Homo sapiens: one gene and its partners. The protein of the gene in region 2 purifies or fractionates together with the protein of the main gene of each other region. This does not show direct contact. Each region holds a gene or a part of one and is shown on either strand. Other genes may lie near its edges.

Region 1 (3,500 bases), on a different chromosome or scaffold from region 2:
GTCAATCCGCAGGGAGTTATGCAGCTGGTCCAGGAGTTTCACGAAGCGCTCTTTCTGAGGAGGAAGGGGAGGAGGGAGGATGGATGGAGGCAGGACATGGCCGCCATAGTGGCTGAGCGCCTACTGTACAGTAAGTATACCTCATCCACCACCCTCATAATGTCCATTTCCATTCTATGGCATTTTTTTTTTTGTTTTGAGACAGAGTCTTGCTCTGTTGCCCAGGCTGGAGTGTAGTGGCGCAGTCTCAGCTCACTGCAACCTCCGACTCCTAGGCTCAAGCAATTCTCCTGCCTCAGCCTCCCAAGTGGCTGGGACTACAGGCACAGGCCACCACACCCAGCTAATTTTCTTTTGGATTTTTAGAAGAGACGGGTTTTCACCGTGTTGGCCAGGCTGGTCTCGAACTCCTGGCCTCAAGTGATTCTCCAGCCTCGGCCTCCCAAAGTGCTGGGATTACAGGCATGAGCCACTGCGCCCGACCTCCATTCTATAGCATTCTACAGAGGAATAAATGGAGGCTCAGAGACGGGAAGTGACTGGTGGAAAGTCACACAGCAATCAGGTCTAGACTGGGGACCCAGAAGTCACATCAGATCTGACCGGCATAAAGTTGGGCTCTCCCTAATTCTCCAATCCCAGTCCCCAGGACTGACCCCAAAGTTGGAGGCGGCGAAGCGGTCGGAGGCAGACACGTTGGTGGAGGCGGTGGTGTGTGCGTAGTAGGCATTGATGTTGGCGAGCAGGGTGCTCATGACGGCAGGCACCCCTGGGCACATATACTTGGAGGAGAGGCAGGCAAAGTGGCTGGAGAGAGGGAGCAGGAGGCACTAGGCCAGGGGTCCAGCCAGGATGGACCAAGATCCCCCCTAGAATGCCTCCAAGATAGCATCTGTGAGTGGGTCTCTGTCACCTCCTAAACCATCCCCTGCCTGATTCTGTCCTTTGGGTCTCCGCATCTCCTCTCCCCTCCATCTTTATATCCATTTGAGTTGCTCTAATTCTGCTTCTTTTTTTCTTTCTTTCTTTTTTTTTTTTTTTTGAGATGGAGTCTCACTCTGTCACCCAGGCTGGAGTTTAGTGGCGCAATCTCGGCTCACTGCAACCCCTGCCCCCCAGGTTCAAGCAATTCTCCCACCCTAACTTCCCGAGTAGCTGGGATTACAGGCCCAAGCCACCACACCTGGATAACTTTTGTATTTTTAGTAGAGATGGGGTTTCACCATGTTGGCCAGGCTGGTCTTGTACTCCTGGACCTGGAGTGATCCGCCCACCTCAGCCTCCTAAAATGCTGGGATTACAGGCTTGAGCCACTGTGCCCAGCCTCTATCTCTGCTTCTAAGTCTTCCCTCTCTTCCATGTCACTCCAGGTGTCAATCACAGCGCTCTCCTGATCTCCAGGGGAATTACGGAACCCACCACCACCACGCCCACTTCCTCTCTGGGTCTTCCCCCTGAGAATCCCTCCCACCCCAGACCTGCCAGTGCCCACTTGGTGACCTCCCTCTTGTTTCCTGCACCCCAGCCTGCAGTCTCACGTCATGGCTTGGTAGATGGACTCGACGCCGTAGCGCATGGCAAACTCGTCCACAATCTCCTGGGCTGTCTCATCGTAGTAAACCTTCCAGGCATCGTCACCCTTGGCATCTGGGATCTTCACGACCCCATTGTTCTGCACGTCGGTCACGAAGTGGAACAGGTTCTGCCACCATGGGAGAGAAAGTGTCATGGAGAGTGCAAGGGGTCGCCGGGGGTCAGAGGTCCCAGGGTCTGGGGCAGCTTACATCATCCATCTGCCTGTTTATTCATTAATTCATTCATCTACTCTTTTATCCATCCACACACCCACCCATCTAACTACCCCAAATTTCACCCATCCACTCTTCCAACCTTTCAGTAATTCAACCACACATCCATCCATCCATCCATTCATCCATCCCATACATTGATCCGCAACTTAATCCACCTACCCAATCATTCATTCTTTCATACAACCAACCATCCATCCACCCATCAATTTATCCAACCATCCATTTTTCGTCTGTCCACCAGCCACTCACAACCATCCATCTAAATATTCAGAAATTATGAACCCAATTATCAATACTTGCAATAGTTCAACCACACATCCTTCCATTCATCCACCCACCCATTCATCCATTTGTCCATCTGCCTATACATCCATCCATCCATCCATCCATCTACCTATCTACCCATCTGACTATCAACAAATTCACCTATCTACTCAATCTTCCTTCTAATAACTCAACCACACTTCCATCCATCCCATCCAATACAACTTAATCTGCTCATCCAACATTTCATCTATCCACCCAGTCAATCATCTATCCAGCAATCTATCTATCCACTCATCAAGTTATCCATCCATCATTCATCTATACTCATCCATCATCTAACAATTACCCCCAAATTCACCCATCCATACATCTATACTTTCAATAGTTCAATCATATATCCATCCATCTGTCCATCCATCCATCATCCATCTAGCCACGAATCTACCCACCAACTCATCCATCTATCCATCCATGTACTCACCCATCTCTCCATCCATCCTTTTATCTACTCATCACTCATTCATCTGTTCAATCATTCATTCATTCACCAGCATTTATTCAACAAACTAGTTCCTGGGGATAAGAGTTCTTTCCAGGAAACCCAGGCAGCTGGAAGAGACATACCCAGACACAAACGGCCCAATCCTGAGTGGTTAGGGCTGGAATAGAAGGAAGAACCTGATGATGAGTAGTGAGAGTCAACCTGGAGGCCAAGGTGGGCTTCCCAGAGGAGGTGACCCTGAATCTGGACTTTGATGGATAGGGAGGAGTTTTCCAGGTAAAGGGAATGGCATGGCGGGCAGTCTCAGAGGGCCAGGAGAGTGTGGATGGTGTGGCCAGAAAGAGGAAGAGCTGGGCAGGCAGGAATGGTGAGTGGAAGTGGCATGGGAGGGGCCGAGCAATGACCCTCACCTCATGCAGACAGGTGTACTGGACATGGTACGGGGCCACCTTCTCCTCGCCTTTGATCTCCACACTGATGTGGAGCCGGATGGCACCCGACACGGCAGATTTGTCAGTTCGCTTGTCTGCAGGGCAGAAAAAGAAGACAGTGTCAGAACTTCCCACTATAGCAGTGGGCAATTTTTTTTTTTTTAAGAGGGAGTCTTGCTCTTGTCACCCAGGCTGGAGTGCAGTGGCACGATCTCAGCTCACTGCAACCTCCACCTCCTGGGTTCAAGCGATTCTCCTGTCTCAGCCTCCCAACTAGCTGGAATTACAGGTGCCTGCCACCGTGCCCAGCTAATTTTTATACTTTTAGTAGAGACGGGGTTTCACCATGTTGGCCAGGCTGGTCTCGAACTCCTTACCTCAGGTGATCCACCTACCTCAGCCTCCCAAAGTGCTGGAATTACAGGCGTGAGTCACCGCGCCCGGCCAGCCATGGGCAAATTTTTTTTTATTTTATTTTTTTTTGAGATC
Region 2 (4,072 bases):
CATAAATGTCATGTGGCTGGAGAGACAGGCCAAGTGCAAGTGGTGAATAAACTTGTATGTCAGTCCAAGAAGTTTCACTTCTCAAAGCACAGGGAGCCTTGGAAAGATTTTAAGCCAAGAATTTTATTTGTTCATCTGAATCTTATTCAACATTTAAGTCCTCTTTTATGGAGGTTTCACTGACTATCTTAGTTGCTGTATTTTCTACTTCCCTCAACTCCTACAGAGCTCTGGCAGCACAGTGAGGAGGCCAAGAGTGAGGCCCATCTCTGCCATTTCCTATCAGAGTGTCATTGGGCAAGTAACTTGACCTCCCTATTTCCCCGTATGTAAAATGGGATGATTGCAATAGTAGTACCTACTCCTAGGGTTATGTATTTATTTATTTTTTGAGACAGAGCCTCACTCTGTTGCCCAGGTTGGAGTGCAGTGGCACAATCTCAGCTCATTGCAACCTCTGCCTCTCAGGTTCAAGCGATTCTCATGCCTCAGCCTCCTGACTAGCTGGAATTACAGGCTCCCCACCCCGCCCACCCTGGCTAATTTTTGTATATTTAGTAGAGATGGGGTTTTGCCATGTTGGCCAGGCTGGTCTCGAACTCCTGACCTCAGGTGATCCACCCGCCTTGGCCTCCCAAAATACTGGGATTACAGCCGTGAGCCACTGTGCCCAGCCTACTCCTAGGGTTATTGTGAGGATTAAATGAGTCAATAGTTGTAAAACTTGGAACAGTACCTGCACATGGTAAATGCTACTTAGGTCGTTGTTAAATAATATAGCATGCTAATTTGCACCTCGCGTCTTTATTATCTTTTTCTACATATGCCTAAGTCTGCCACGCAGCCTCCTTGTGGAGAGGATAGTGACTTGTTATTGTGCTTCTCTGTATATTCAATATCTCTTCCACATTTGAAGTGAATAGCTTTAAGTCAGAAATTCAGATTTAGAAAAATAAATGGATCATATTGAAATTAGGGAGGCCTAGATACAGGTTATTTTTTTGTTGTTCTTCAATCTGTGTCCCTTGGTTATGCATTTGAAAAGCCTAAAGAAAACATACAGAACAGCCTCGATGCATACTGTACTTAGGGTGAGTAAAAGAGTTTTGTTGGAAGTATAGAAATAGCCCCATATCATGTGTCCTTCTGTACTTTACAAAAGGAATTCTTCAATTGCAAATTAGTACTCACTGCGCATTTATACTGTGAGCGCCAAATTTCTGCTTATGTAGGCAGAGATATGCTATTCATATTTTTTCCAAAATGTTTCTAACACTACTTAAATAATCTAAAATAGTCTAGTGAAGTGGTGTCTATGCAGACAGTTTATGAGGACTGGAGATTGGTGCCAGTATTTTTTTTTTTCATATCTTGGCTTAGACTAGTCCTAGCAGAGTTTTATAAAAGTCGCATTACTTTCTTTTTCATTGCTAAAAATGAAATGCAATATTCTTTTTGTACCAGAACTAAAGTGTCTCTTCAACACCAGGTTAGATGAGGACTATGTACATAGAAGGCCTTTACTTCCTAACTTGCCAGTTAGTCAGCCTTTATATTGTAGTCTACAGCACCCTGTGCAAATTTTTTTTTTTTTTTTTTTTTTTTTTTAGGTTTGGCAGTACATGTGAAGGTTTGTTACATCCTCATGTGCCATGCATATAAATATTTGTTGAACACAGTCTCATTTCTCAAAAGTCATTTCAAATATCTCAAAACTTAACATGGTTTTGCAACTGCAAACACATTTTTCTTTTTTCCTTTCTTGCCATGATACATTTTTCTTTTATTCCTTTCCTGCTATGAGAGTCTGATCTGCAAATGTAATATTTTACCCAGCAGTTCTCTGTTTTTCTAAAGTTGCTTGGGATTACATTTGGTCAAGAAGACTGCAAGGGAGGGCTTCTGAAAATTTGGTTTTATATTGGTCGTATTGATCATATCATGAAAACTGCCATAAAAAGGGCCCAAATAACTTGAAATAATGTGAATGGGTTTGAATTTTAGCCTAGTAGCCACATCTAACAACAGTCTTTCTAAAGGGTTAAATTTTCATTGAAGCATTTCTTTTTAGTAATTATTCTCCAAAGGATTTTGAACAGGAGAAGAAGTTTTTAGATAGAATCAGAAAATATTATTCTGGTAGTCTACAGAATAAAGTTGAATTTGAGATGGAGGTTTCAACATCAGCCAGAAAAGTTTTTTAATGTGGAATTTTTTTAAGGGTTTAATTTTCCCCATACTTGGCAAAGAGGGAGTTTTGAGGCTTATAATTTAAAAACTGACTGCTGATGATTTAAATATAGCAAATTAAAATGCAGAATTAACTTAGAAATAAAAATGTTACACATCGAGGAGGCAACATGTCGTGGAAGGTGACTCAGTTCTAAGGCCTGCTCAGCCACCAACCGGCTGTGTGATGGGCAGGTAACTAAACACTGGCCCTCACTGTCCTTATTTGTCAACCAAACGGATTTGCCTGGATAATTTATTAGCCTGAGAATCAGCTCTGATGTCCTGATTCCAAACAAGCAATTCTTTACCTTTGAGACCTGGTTCTCCTTTGTCCCCTATTACGTGGGATATCTCTGAAGGCCCGGGATTTCCTTTATCTCCTTGTTCCCCCTTGGCTCCTGGGGTTCCTCTCTGGCCCTTTACTCCTGGAATTCCAGGGCTCCCTAACAGACAGGAGTAACAACATCAGGTCCTTAATTCTTCAGGTAGTTCATAGGGATTAAAAAGTTGGCAGTGCTTACTATAAAACAGAACAAATCAAACAAAAAAGGCTAACAGTGCTGAGAACTTGATAAATAGTTTCCCCAGGCAGGCAGCCTCATAAGGGTAGTGGTGTAAGCCTACAGAAAACAGGATTCCATTCAAATGGAGAAAAGGAACATAGAAAACAGCAAAATCAAATACTGTTGCTCTCTCAGAACTATTTTTCCCTCCAATGAAACATAACTTTTTTTGCTGCAAAATAAATGAACATTGTTTATGCTTCCTGCTATTTAGAAAGACACTCTATCACTTACCCCTCTGCCCTGGTGTGCCTGGGTTCCCAGGGGGCCCTGGAGGGCCAATGGCTCCAGGAAAGCCCATCATCCCAATCACTCCATCTTCACCTATGGAAACAAATTAACACAAAGCAGCACGTGTTGTACAGAGTGAGAAAAGCAAAATATTCCATATACTAAAATAAATTATACTTAGAAGCAGAGATTGGGAGTTGAAAAAATGGCCTCTGTACATAGTACAATTACTGTATTAGTCTAGGAGATGGGTCGGTAAGTGGTCTTTTAAACTCACCTATGTGGAAGTGATTGGTAGCAAATCATATTCATGGATGAGGATAGCATATGTGGAAGTTTTGGAGCATTCCATCCTCCCAGCCCCTGACCAGTCACTTTCTATTCTATCCCTTCACTTTATTTTCTTCATAACACTTGTCTCAAATTGAACTTAGATTTTAAATATTTCTATTATTGATCCTCTACTATGAGAAGGGGAGACTTGTCCACTGACTGATGTGTCTCTAGGGCCTAGAAGAATGCTGGCATGTGATAGTAGCCCAATAACATGAATGAAAGGATAATGTGTCGATTAAGTTGTTTTAGGCTCTTTTCCAGAGGGGAGATCGGTGAGGTCCTTATGCCATGAGGGAACAGAATATTCTCCCCAAACATATAAACAATAAACATAGCCATGAAATTAAAACAATTATACAGAAATATGATGAACAACAACAACAAATCAGATAACTTATAAAAATGGACAAGTTTCTAGAGAAACAGAATACCAAAACTGACTCCAGAAGAAATAGAAAACCTGAATATACCTATAAGAAATGAAGAGATTGAATTAGTCATTTAGAGACTTCCCAAAAAGAAATGCCCAGACCCAGATAACTTCACTGGTGAATTCTACCAAATGTTTAAAGAGCGTCGATTCTTCACAAACTGTTCCAGAAAATACAAGAGGAGGAAACACTTCCCAGCTTGTTCCATCAGACCAGCATTACTCTGACACCAACACCAAAGACATCACAAGAACGCTACAGACCAATATCCCTTCTCAA
Region 3 (3,500 bases), on a different chromosome or scaffold from region 2:
AGATAGTGAATATGGTGGCAATTTTTGGGGTCAACGCTTGGGGTAGAGTGAGGTAGGTTTGTTATATAGGGAGGGTATCTGGGCCTCCAACAGAAGAAGAAAAGCAGAAATGGACTGCTTTGTTCTTGGATGGAAATGTGGTAGAAAGTTGGGGTGAATTAAGTTTGGACCTGGGAGTTAGATTAGATTCTGGAGGATAATGGTAGAGAAGGAGAATGTTCATAACTTGGGCATTTTTGTCAGGAATTGTGGGAACTATAAAAGGGATTTTGTAACATGAGTTACAAAAATTATTAAGTGCTGTATTCTGACCTAATCTCTACAGAAGAATTTCAGAAGTACTGTGAAGATATTGTAAACACAGCTGCATGGGGAGGTCAGCTTGAGGTAAGTTTGTAGTTATTCATAGTGATTGTGGGTTGTTAAATTATTTCTAAATCCCTTCTGTAGTTTTTAGATGTTTCTCAGCTGATCCCAATTTCTCTTTGAAGATTCCTTTTCTTTATATATTTGCTCTTCTCAACTGACAAAGAAATAGGGAGTTAACATGATTAGGTCTGTGATTAAAGTATGTATGTTGAGGGATTGAAACACTATTACATTTTAAATAGCTCAGTGTTAGATCTGTGTGTTAGAAATACATATGTGTAAGTCTTTTCATCGTGATAGTAGTATTGGCAATACATTTGATTTTCTGGACTTAGGAAAATGAAAATTTTACTGAAGTAAAGTAAAATTTAGCCTAGTAGCTCAGCTGATCAAAGTCACTATTGGAAAAATATCTTTTTTACATCAGAAATGGAAAAAAAAAATTATGTGAAATTATAGGCCAAATCCTACCACAACATATATATTAAAATCGTATTTTGAATTCCTAATTGATAGTGACTGACTTACTTGAAAGCAGTAGTTGGTGCATTAAATTCATATGTAAGAAAACAGTATGTTCAGTCACTTACAGGAAGTTATCAAGATTACTTTTTAGCTCTAATTTTAAAAAAATCTTACTGTTAACTTTGTTTTGTTAAAAACAAACAAACAAACAAAAAAAACAGGTAGGTAGGCCAGATGGTGATGAAGCAGCCTGGGTATTAAATAGGATAAGAAAGAAAGTTCTGGGTTCAGGTCCTGGCATTTTCTTCCACCCCTCTGTTTTGTGGCCACAGGGGAGTCAGCCATCCTCCCAAGCTTGAGTTTCTTGATTACTATATGGCCATAATAAACCCTCTCTGTGTATTCAGTTGAGCATTTTTGAGCATTAAGTAAGGCAGAGAGTACCTGCATAAAAGTTTGTAAGCTGAAGTGCCAGATGGATGAACCTAGGCAGTACGATTAGTAATATATAATGATGATTAATCATCATGAATAGTCTGTGGCTCTAAATAATTCACTTTAAGAACTGCTTCATTTGAAGATGCAACATGAATGTTGCCCCAAAATCTTTTTCTTAGTACTGCTGTGTATGTGCATTTCCACCAGAGGGAACTGTATCCATTAGTTTTGTATGCCTCGGAAACTCAGGAAATGTTCATAGTAGCTTTGTTACTACTACATTAGGAATAATTAAAAATGCTTGAACTTTCTTAAAAGGATCATTCATATGAGTATTAGAGATTAAATCAAGAAATTAAGAAAAACCTTTTAAAACATCTTTTGAGGGACACTTATACATTTTTTTCATCTGTGAATTCATTTGAAGTAAGAGTTGCAGTTTTCACAATAGAGTAAATTTAAGTTATTAAAGAAAATCATTCTATGATCTCTGAAGTTAGAAGGCATAGTAGGATTCCCAGAGTTTGGTTCGCATCCTCTATTCTATGCTAGTTTCTTAAAAATGATATTTTAGGTATAAGAAAAATGTACCTCAAAGGAACGTTTTTGATTTACCACCATGCAGCAGAGTGCTTTCCATATTTTTGAAGTAATTTCTTAAATTCTTTCAAAACCTCAGGAAGGAGTATGTTCATCAATGGAATGTTCTTGTAATGGGGCAAGTACATATCCCATAGTGCCCCCATAGATCGGGGCATTATGATTTTTACTTTCTTTTTGAGACAGAGTCTCACTCTGTCACCCAGGCTGGAGTGCAGTGGTGCCACCCATCATTGTTCACTACAGTCTCAATCTTCTAGGCTTAAGCTTTCCTCCCACTCCTGAGTAGCTGCACCACCATGCCTGGCTAATTTTTGTATTTTTTGTAGAAACGGGGTCTCCCTGTGTTGCCCAGGCTGGTCTCGAACGCCTGAGTTCAAGTGACTTTGACAAGTCTTGTAACCCTTTTTTTGCCTCAGATTCTAGGTCTTTAAAATAACGACAGTACCCATCCCATAAAGTTATTGAGAGGATTAAAGGAATTAATACACATAAAGTACTTAAAATGCTTGAGTGTTTGGTCATATGTCTTTTTTTTTTTTTTTTTTTTTTTTGAAACAGGGTCTCACTCTGTCACCCCAGTTGGAGTACAGTGGCGTGATCTTGGCTCACTGCAACCTCTGCCTCCCGGGCTCAAGTGATCCATCATGCCTGGTTAATTTTTGTATTTTTTTGTAGAGACATGGTTTTACCATGTTGCCCAGTCTGGTCTCGAATGCCTGGACTCAAGGTATCTGCCTACCTTGGCCTCCCAAAGTGCTGGAATTATGGGTGTGAGCCACTGTGCCTGGCCCGTAATCATAATAAGTCTTTAAAAATGTTAGCATTAATGTTCAATATTCACCATTATTCATCTGGCTTTAGGCTCTAATTTTATATTGTATGGTATGAAATTACTTAAAATTGTATATTTTAATCAAATAGAAATTCATTGATAGGGCAGTACAATTCATATACATATTCTACTCTTTGAAAATTATAGAACAGTGGTTGTCAACAGTATTTGTAGATTAGAATCATCTGAAAAACTTTAAAAAAATAAATATTTTGTTCTTCCCCCTGCCCATTTTCTCACATTGTAATTTATTTGGTCCGGTGCTTGAGCAATGGTATTTAAAAATTTTTTTTGTTATGAACATTTTCAAGCGTATTCAAAAGTAGACTAGTATAATATACCTAGTCTACCCATTGCCCCTCTTCATTAACTGTGGCATTGATATTTTTTACAAAGCTTTTGTGCAGGCAGGGCTTGAGCAGTCTCTGCATTTGATTTAATAAATACAAGTTGAGCATCCCTAATCTGAAAATTTGAAATTCGAAATGCTCCCAAATCAAATTTTTTGAGGGCTGACATCACAAGTGGAAAATTCTACACTTGACTTTATGTGACAGGTCACAGTTCAAACTTAGTTTCATGCACAAAGTTATTTAAAATGTATAAAATTACCTTCATGGTGTGTGTGTAAGATATGTATGAAACATGAATGAATTTTGTGTTTAGATTTGAGTCCCATCCTCAAGATATCTCATGTAGTATATGCAAATACTCCCAAATCTGAAAAATTCAAAAACTAAAACAATTCTGGTTCCAGGCATTTAGGATAAGGGATATTCAACCTGTATTATAT

What was found.
Region 1: the proteins of COL4A3 (region 2) and UNC13A fractionate together in Homo sapiens (co-fractionation; one large-scale study listed by BioGRID). This does not show direct contact.
Region 3: the proteins of COL4A3 (region 2) and OTUD6B fractionate together in Homo sapiens (co-fractionation; one large-scale study listed by BioGRID). This does not show direct contact.

What each region holds. Positions count from the first base shown.
Region 1 is NC_000019.10:17,639,855-17,643,354, forward strand, and holds part of UNC13A (protein unc-13 homolog A), read right to left. Parts: intron 3,107-3,500; coding exon 2,991-3,106; intron 1,703-2,990; coding exon 1,539-1,702; intron 808-1,538; coding exon 657-807; intron 55-656; coding exon 1-54. UniProt on the Homo sapiens protein: Plays a role in vesicle maturation during exocytosis as a target of the diacylglycerol second messenger pathway.
Region 2 is NC_000002.12:227,282,814-227,286,885, reverse strand, and holds part of COL4A3 (collagen alpha-3(IV) chain precursor), read right to left. Parts: intron 3,120-4,072; coding exon 3,030-3,119; intron 2,676-3,029; coding exon 2,541-2,675; intron 1-2,540. UniProt on the Homo sapiens protein: Type IV collagen is the major structural component of glomerular basement membranes (GBM), forming a 'chicken-wire' meshwork together with laminins, proteoglycans and entactin/nidogen.
Region 3 is NC_000008.11:91,080,344-91,083,843, forward strand, and holds part of OTUD6B (deubiquitinase OTUD6B), read left to right. Parts: intron 1-325; coding exon 326-387; intron 388-3,500.